2 separate regions of the Homo sapiens genome follow, and region 1 is reported to be linked to region 2. The links are microRNA targets in miRTarBase. Many come from high-throughput screens and were not tested one by one. Region 2 holds a microRNA gene; the other region holds the end of a gene's coding sequence.

Region 1 (4,399 bases), not on the chromosome of region 2:
GGAGAAACCTTATAGGTGTGATGAGTGTGGAAAGGGCTTCAGCCAAAGTACACACCTTCACATTCACCAGAGAGTCCACACAGGGGAGAAACCATACAAATGCAATGTGTGTGGAAAGGATTTTGTGTATAGCTCTGTTCTTCACACTCATCTGAGTTCACACTCGAGAAAAACCATATAAATGCAAAGTGTGTGGAAAGTGCTTTAGTTACAGTTCATATTTTCACTTACATCAAAGAGATCACACCAGAGAGAAACCATATAAATGTGATGAGTGTGGTAAAGACTTCAGTCGGAATTCAGATCTTCGTGTTCACCTCAGAGTCCACACAGGAGAGAGGCCCTATAAGTGTAAGGCATGTGGTAAGGGCTTCAGTCGTAATTCATACCTCCTTGCCCATCAGAGAGTGCATATAGATGAGACACAGTACACACATTGTGAGCGTGGCAAGGACCTTCTGACTCATCAAAGACTACATAAGCAGAGAGAAACATTATAAAGGTAGTAAGTCAGGGTTCAATTAGGAAAACAGAAGCCACACTGTATTCCAGATGATAGAGGCTAACTCAGCCTTTGGGAGGGCTGGGGGAGCAAAAGACAGGGACGCTGCCATCGATGAGGTCAGCATGACAGGCTGGGGGTTCGCGCTGGCACAGGCGCCGGCAGCCACATCGGCAGGCAGGAGGGTCCCGCTGCACAGCTGAGGGGTGATGATTGCCTGGGTGGTGATGTCGGCCATTAGACGCGCCTCTTCTGCCGGCAAGTGTGTGGCAGTATGAAGTAGAAGGACAAGCCTGTATTTGAGGCTGGAATGCGGAAGGGGCTCTTCTGCGGCTAGGTGTGGGACCCTGAGCAGGAATGTGGAGAAATGGGCAGGTAAATGCATCACGTTGGCCAGGAGATTTGCAAGGACTTACAGCTGAATGATGATAATGGGGAGTGACTGTGAGGCCCTGGGAGTCTCTGAGTGTAAAGGAAGATAGGTGTGGGGCCCCCAGGGAGTATGTGGGAGCCATTGCTGTGTAGGTGGAGGTAGTTGGGGAATAATCTGGTGAGCTCTGTGAATTTCTAGGGTTCTCCTGAATGCTGAGGGGTGACTCTTGCAGAAAACTGAGGATGCTTGGAGAATAGCTGGGAGACACAGATGAGGCCCTAAGGAATGGTGGTATAGAGGTGACAGAGATAAGGGAGGAGCACAGTGAGGTCTATGAGTTTCTGGGTGACTCCTGTGTGTTCAGGGCTGACCCAAGGAGAAATCTGGGGATGGTTGGAGAGGAGCTGGGAGACACAGGAGAGTCCCTGAGGGTTGCAGGTGAAGAGATGGGAGACGTGATAGAAGAGGGCCCTGAGATTTTTGTCTATAGGTGATACTTGGGTTTGGGAAGCTGAATGTTGCAGTAAGCTGGGGATTGAGAGAATCTGGGAGACACAGGAGAGTACCTGAGGGCCTGGAGTAAAGAGTTGGGAGACATGGGGCCAGAGCCCTGTGAGGTCCCTGAGTTTCTGCTTGTTACATGGGTGTCAGGGCCTGACTGTTACAGAAATCTAGGAATGATTGGAGAGTAATTGGGAGACATGAGACTCCCTGAGGGCTGGTGGTGAAGAGATGGGAGACATAGGGGAGGATCCCGTGAGGTCTATGAGTGTCTCTGTAATTCCTGGGTGTGGCAGGCAGACTGTCACTGAATATGAAGAATGTTCATGGCTTATATATTTTTTATTTTTACTTTATTTTCTAGGTCTCATCATAGCTCATATATAACACTCAAAACATCATTAAACCATCTAATCTAATATTCGACCATATCATTTCTTTCTTTACACGACTTGTGAGATAAGTAAGATATCAGTTAAAATTTTCATTTCAGCATCTGTTTTTCTCATATCCCCTTTGTGCTTCTTAAAGATGGTTAAAATAGGACAGACAGACTTGGAACTTTGTTCAACTGTCTTAGGAAAAGACCATTGCAGGGGCACAGTCTTTCAACCCCACTGGCCATGTAAGACTAGGCCTGGAGCCTGGAACACATCCTTCCCAAGAGATACTGAACCTCTTTCAGACTCATTGAGGGTTCTTCAAAGTGTGGGTCAGTGGTCCCCAAGGGATGCCCGCAGCTTTCAGTATTTCACACTCCATGAAAACATCAGCAACTGTTTTCCCAGACCTGACACTGCCAGGTGTGCAACAATCTCTGGATTAATCCTCATAGAGATGGCTCCACTTAGGGTCATCTCATAGGGATAGAATTTTGCTAAGGATAACCCCATCAGTTACCCTTTAAGTTTTCTTTCCTATCCCAAGGGTATTAACCTCTATTATCTGGTCTCTCAGTTCAACTTTCAGCTTATTACCTTTCTGGGATCAGAGGCTTCAATATATGGTCATCCACAGGATTCAAATTCATGATTCAAGGGAAAGGTCAGAAAGACATGTTAATCAAATCTTAAATATCAAAGAGTAACTAAAACTTTGCCTCATGAAAGCATTTTTGCAAGCATAATTTAGACGGTCAGCACTGAGCCAGGGAAGCACCCTTCTATTCAGAGGACTCTCACATCAGGGAACATATCCCAGAGGAAAGAGACAATGCTACATGAGGGGAAGAACTAAAACATGAAAATAGAGTTCCTTAATATTGCTTTGCATATATGAAAATAAGCCCACTTGCCCTCTATACTTCCCACGCATTCTCAGTTCTTCATATGAAACCATTTCTGGCCAAAATTTCTAGTTACCTATTTCCAGGAATCCATTTTATTTTCAATGAGGAATGTTCCTAGGAATCTATGTCCTAAGTAGTAATCTGCTCATGCTATTCCAAACATAAACCTCATTATCCTGAGGGATCTTTGCTATTTGGTTGCTTAGTCTTTCCTAAATAGTCAAAGAAGGAAATCTTTGTATTTCATTTTTGGCTTTGAATAATTTTTACTCATTATATCATTTATCATAGCATAACAGCGTACATTCCAAAAAGGAAGGCCCAACATAAACTGAGAAATTGAATAGATACATCCATAATCCCTTTCTATTCTAATCCATACACAAATATTTTATCATAATGGTTTTAGAAGTGAATATTATTTCTATATTCTTTTCCCACACTTTTCACTATATATCATAGACACTTTCCTAAAATTTATAAAATCTTCACATGTAACAACAGCAAGTGCTGTAAGGAACAGATTACAAGCTATCTAATTGGAAGATCATGTAGTAAAATGATGCACTAAAATATGGTTTTCCAGCCTAAGTTCTAAACACTACAGCAACCTTTAAATTTTCTCAATAAGCCCACTAGTGTTAGCATTCCATTTACTCTTTATGGAAAAAGAGGTCTAACACTGGCAGTTGGCTTTGGCATATGATTTTCTCTGATTCAGGTCTGAGTGCTTTCTGCAAGGAAAAGTGCCAGTATTTATTATTTTCATAGGAATATGTCATAAGAATCAAGTTTAACATTGTATATGGAATTGCCAGGTTGAAAAGTCGTTCATAGACTTTCCCCCTTTCTTTTCCAGAACAAATTTGAGACACACAATTAACAGAGGGCTGGAAGTTTTCCCACATATATTGTTTTTATAGTAGTTCTTCCAACTACATGTACTACCTTAAAATAAATTTTTTAAAAGAATGAAATAAAAAGGAAGAAATCCCAGCTGATTTACAAACTAGTTACATTCATAGAGTTTCTCTTCAGTATGAGTTGCCTGATGCCTAATAAGTTTATAGCTATTAATGAAAGCTTTTCCACACTGAATACATGTAAAGGGTTTCTCTCCAGTATGAGTTCTTTGATGCACAATAAGTCGAGCACTCAAGCTAAATGTTTTTCCACACTGATTACATTCAAATGGTTTCTCTCCAGTATGAGTTCTCTGATGTTGAGTAAGGCATGAACTCTGTCTGAAGGACTTCCCACATTGACTGCATTCATAGGGCTTTTCTCCAGTATGAGTTCTCTGATGTACAACAAGAACATAACTCTGGCTGAAGGATTTCCCACACTGATTACATTCATACGGTTTTTCCCCAGTGTGAATTCTCTGATGCATAACAAGGTGAGAACTGCGGTTAAAAGATTTTCCACATTCACTACATTCATACGGTTTCTCTCCAGTGTGAGTTCTTTGATGTGCAACAAGCTGAGAGCTCCAGCTGAAGGATTTCCCACACTGATTACATTCAAAGGGTTTTTCTCCTGTGTGAGTTCTCTGATGAGCAACAAGTTTATAACTTTGACTAAAGGATTTCCCACACTGATTGCATTCATAGGGTTTTTCCCCAGTATGAATTCTTTGATGTGCAATAAGTTTATAGCTCTGGATAAATGATTTCCCACATTGATTACATTCATAGGGCTTCTCTCCGGTATGTGTTCTTTGATGTGCAATAAG
Region 2 (4,322 bases):
TGCCTACAAGTAGTATATCGCCCAACTGAAGAGCAACAATCGAAGCAGAGGAAACCAACAAGAAATCCATCAGATTTCCAAGTTTATTGACACTCAAGGGCCAGCTAGCCTCCTCGAAACGCTCAGGATCCTGCTGAGGAAAACCCGAGGGTGGGGGAATCGTGAGGATAGGGAAGCAACCAGACTGCCTAGGTGAGCCTAAGGTGAGGTGAGTCAGAAGCAAGAGGGAGGCAGAGAAGTGGTGCCGCGAGGGCGGTCACCTGTGGGACCACTTGATCCAGCCCCGCCTCCAGGGACAGTAGGCAGAATCGCGGCCAGCAGGCCTCGAAAGACGCCGAGAAAACGCAGAGCTGGGCCCCTTCAGCCCGGCCTGGAACTCACCATCCACGGTTTTCTTCTTGAAGAGGGACGCCATGGTTAAAGACTGCGCCCGGGCGGCCCGGCTCGGCCCGGTCCGGCCCAACGCTGGCAAAGGACAGGAGGAAAAGGACAGGACCTTGGCGGGTTCGGGGTGGCGGAGCGGAGAGACAGCAGGAGGAGGTCGGGGTCGCCAGGCAGGACCCGCGGAAGGCTTGTATCCGCAGCTACCGCAGCCGCGTCACCCGGAGCTCAGGTGACCGGGAACTAACACACTTTTTGGAGAAGTCACTTCTAGGCGGCGCCTGCGCGTTGTGTGGCGCCTGCGCACTACGGAGTTTGAAGCCGCGGCCGCTTTCCTCACGTCTGCGGCTGCCAGTTCCTCCTGCACCGGGAGTTGGCAGCGGGGCGAGTCTGGAGCTGGCGGGGATAGGAGAGCGTGGGGCCACGGCTTCTGTGCGCGGGTTGGGTGATGATTGAGGACAGTGATCAGCCTTGCTTAGCGCTTCACCCCTTGCCCCGGGGAAAGCTGGATGAGGGATCTCCGGGCTCCTAGACTAAGTGTGGGTTGTCCCGGAACCGCCTGTACCCACTCCGAGTTGATTTATTACGGTCCCATTGCTGTTAGTATTTTTGTTGTTGTTGTTGTTGTTGTTTGTTTGTTTTTACTCGAGTAATCCAGGAACTGGCGGAAACGTTGAGTTCCGTACCCGGTGATTGTTGGCCCCTGGAGTTCGCGGTCCTTTCGGCACTGACTGACTCGGCGACCTCCCCCGCACCGCGCAGACCCCTGCAGGACCCTAGCCGCTCACCTGCCGCCCCCGGCTCCAGACTCCGACGACCCAGCGTGGGTCTCCGGGGATCCAGTGTCTAGAGTTGGGGGGGTCTCGAGGACGAAGGGAAGTTTTTTAATGCTACACTTTTTGTTTAAGGTTCTTGCCTGGAAACATTAAAACACACACACACACACACACACACACACACACACACAAATTTGTAGGCTGGTCTAAATGTCTCCAGCTCTATTTCTTAATTTCTTGTAAATCATGAATCATAAAGTGTCATGGCTATACGGTGATCCTATTAGAATTCCTCACAGCCGTTTATTTGGGCTTTTTGTGAAAAACTGCATATCATGTTAAAGAAAAAATGTAATGAATTATTTAAAGAATCCTTGCATGTATAAAATGGAAAATACAACCTATGCGTGCGTACCTGTATATAGTCTCTACTGTTTAAAGCAACACTGCCTTCCACAGGATAAAAATAATGGTAGCATTTTTTTTTTCATAAATATTATCTCTGATATGGAAGAAATCCAGAAGTGGCTAATAATATTGACACTATAACAATAATGTCAATATTATTAGCCACTTCTGGATTTATGAATCATGTCTCAAGGATTATTATTTATGATAATCAGGCCAGCCTTTCCCATTTTTCCCCTCCTGAGATATCCAAGCCCTCATAGCCACTGATAATGCTGCTGCTGCTGCTAAAAGTTAGCTGAGAGTCTGTTCAAGAAAACTTTCTTAAGAATGACGTAGTAATATGCAAGATATAATTGTTTTGCTTCTCCTCAAGTTATTCTCGATATGGGAAGATGAAGTAAGGAAACATTAGGAAGACATGTAAGTGAGAAGATTTAGTCTCTGCACTCAAGACCGGGCCTTTTCTGGAGTGAGCTCTATGGCAGTTTGCCCTGGCTGTCTGTTGTAATGAATGGCATAGAGCTGTGCTTGAACGCATGAGAGGCAATAAGCTGTTATGTGTGTAGTAATCGTACTCCTCCCTGCTGCAGTCACCCTTGTTTTATTACTCCTATACAATCCCCCCCACTGACCCAATTGTAACAGTTGGGAAAATGCCAAAATACTTAGGAGCAACCATATGGAAGACCCTCCAAAAGTGCACAGCAGGAGCTAAAGACAGGGCTTGTTCATTACAATAAAGACAAAATAGAAATATTTACTATTTAAACTCAGTACTCTAATAGCTTGTTCTCCCATAGTTTGAAGAAGGCTGATATTCAGCTGATTGCACCAGTCTAGCTAGAGTCCATTCTGATTAGTTGGTGGCCACATTTCTCCTGTACACATTTTGTATTATTATATCGCTCCTTATTTAAAGGGCATGATACACTTAAATATATGTTGTTTTCTGGAGTATTTCATAACATAGTTTCCTCCTCTGAAACTGAAATATTTGCCATTTTTTCATCTTTGGGTACCTCGGGTTATAATTTGAATGGGTGCATTCTTCTCCTTGTTCAGCTTTTGAAGAAAGATAGCATAACATTGGAGAGTGCTGATTCTGGACACAGACTGCCCAGTTCTGTGACCAATTCTGTGACTTTTAAGTTTTAAGACCTAGGCCAGTTCACTGAAGCTCTCCGTGTTTCTTTCATCACATATGTGATAGAGATAACATTAGCCCACCTTTCATATATTAGGTTGGTACAAAAGTAATTGGCGAAAACCACAGTTACTTTTGCACCAACCTAATAGCTGTTGCAAGGATTAAATGAGTTAATATGTTAAACATTCAAAGTAGTGCTTGGCACGTAATGTCTTAGCCCCTCTGTGCAGCTACAACAAAATACCACAGACTGGGTAATTTATAAACAGTAGAAATTTATTTCTCACATTTGTGGAGGCTGGGGAGTCCAAGATCAAGGAACCCAGAGGTTTTGTTTCTGGTGAGAGCTGCTTTCTGCTTCCATGATGGTACCTTGCTGTTGCATCCTCAAGAAGAAAGAGATGCTGTATCCTCACATGGCAAGAAGGACAGAAGGGTAAAAGGGCGGTAGGCAGCTCCCTCACACCTGTTTTATAAAGGAACTAATCTCATTCATGAGGGCTCCACCCTCATGACTTAATCACATCCTAAAGTTCCCACCTCTAAAAACTATCACATTAGTGATTAAGTTTCAACATATGAATTTTTGGGGGGTACATTCACACCATATCACATAATAATCATTTTTGTATTATCTGTATTGTTGTTTCCAGCTGTTTTACCTTTTTATGCTTTCTCAAGTAATCTTCATGCTGAAATTCTCTTCTCTGTAGTACAGAAAACACAAATTGAAGATTTAGGCTTTCTGATGCTGATCTTGGTTACCTTCACCTTAACAGCCACCACCTCCCCAAATTAGCCCATTTCTTTCTCCTTAATAAAAAAATGGTTTTATTCTCAGCAAACTAACACAGGAACAGAAAACCAAACACTGCATATTCTCACTCATAAGTGGGGGTTGAGCAGTGAGAACACATGGACACAGGGAGGGGAACATCACATGCCAGGGCCTGTCAGGGGGTGGGGGGAAAGGGGAGGGAGAGCATTAGGACAAATACCTAATGCATGTGGGGCTTAAAACCTAGATGATGGGTTGATGGGTGCAGCAAACCACCATGGCACATGAAGACCTATGTAACCAACGTGCACGTTCTGTACATGTATCCCAGAACTTAAAGTAAAATAAACAAATAAATAATAAGATAATGGTTTTCTTGTTCTTAAATCTGTTATTTGTGTAGGAATTGACTTGTTATAGAAATATGTATCTAACATTGGTACTGGAAGGATTCGGTGCAGATTTGTTTCTGTTTGTCTTTTCTCCTCAGCTTCAATTTTAAACTCCTTGGGTTCAGAGAGAATCTCTTGTCAGGCCCTTCAATAATTTTCCTACTAGAATGTAAATATATTTAATAGAAACTTAATATGCAATCGTATTTTCATATTATCCATGTTTCAATGTTTTAACGCCAAATGACAAGTATATATATATACATTTGGTACATTTTTGTTGATTTGACACATTTAACTTCAAGTCTCTTTATATATGAAAAGCAGCTAACATTATCTATCTCCATGAACAACAGTAGAGATCTAGAGAACCTAAAAGTCAATAAATAATTCTGTATGTATGTAAGGATTTAGCGAAAACATCAACTCATTTGTTT

What was found. Region 2 holds the annotated microRNA hsa-miR-4795-3p (AUAUUAUUAGCCACUUCUGGAU, at 1,718-1,739, shown strand). A microRNA usually pairs through its seed, bases 2 to 8, with sites in the 3' UTR of a target mRNA and lowers its output. Matches are read on the target gene's strand: a 7mer-m8 pairs with bases 2 to 8, a 7mer-A1 pairs with bases 2 to 7 and ends in A, and an 8mer does both.
Region 1: miRTarBase lists ZNF180 as a target of hsa-miR-4795-3p. Seed matches in the 3' UTR shown: 8mer at 3,421-3,428 and 7mer-m8 at 3,081-3,087.

What each region holds. Positions count from the first base shown.
Region 1 is chr19:44,472,729-44,477,127 of GRCh38, forward strand. It overlaps ZNF180 (zinc finger protein 180), which reads right to left. Exons shown (of 5, transcript NM_001278509.3): 5 at 1,715-4,399. The coding sequence ends at 3,674. It also overlaps the pseudogene ZNF285BP. Among named protein-coding and RNA genes, the nearest start is that of ZNF180, 26 kb to the right of the region's middle.
Region 2 is chr3:87,223,616-87,227,937 of GRCh38, reverse strand. MIR4795 (microRNA 4795) reads left to right here and starts at 1,661; the gene lies at 1,661-1,749. It overlaps CHMP2B (charged multivesicular body protein 2B), which reads right to left and starts at 629. Exons shown (of 6, transcript NM_014043.4): 1 at 382-629. The coding sequence starts at 415. RefSeq lists enhancers at 418-537, 608-677, 728-777, 868-927, 1,038-1,177.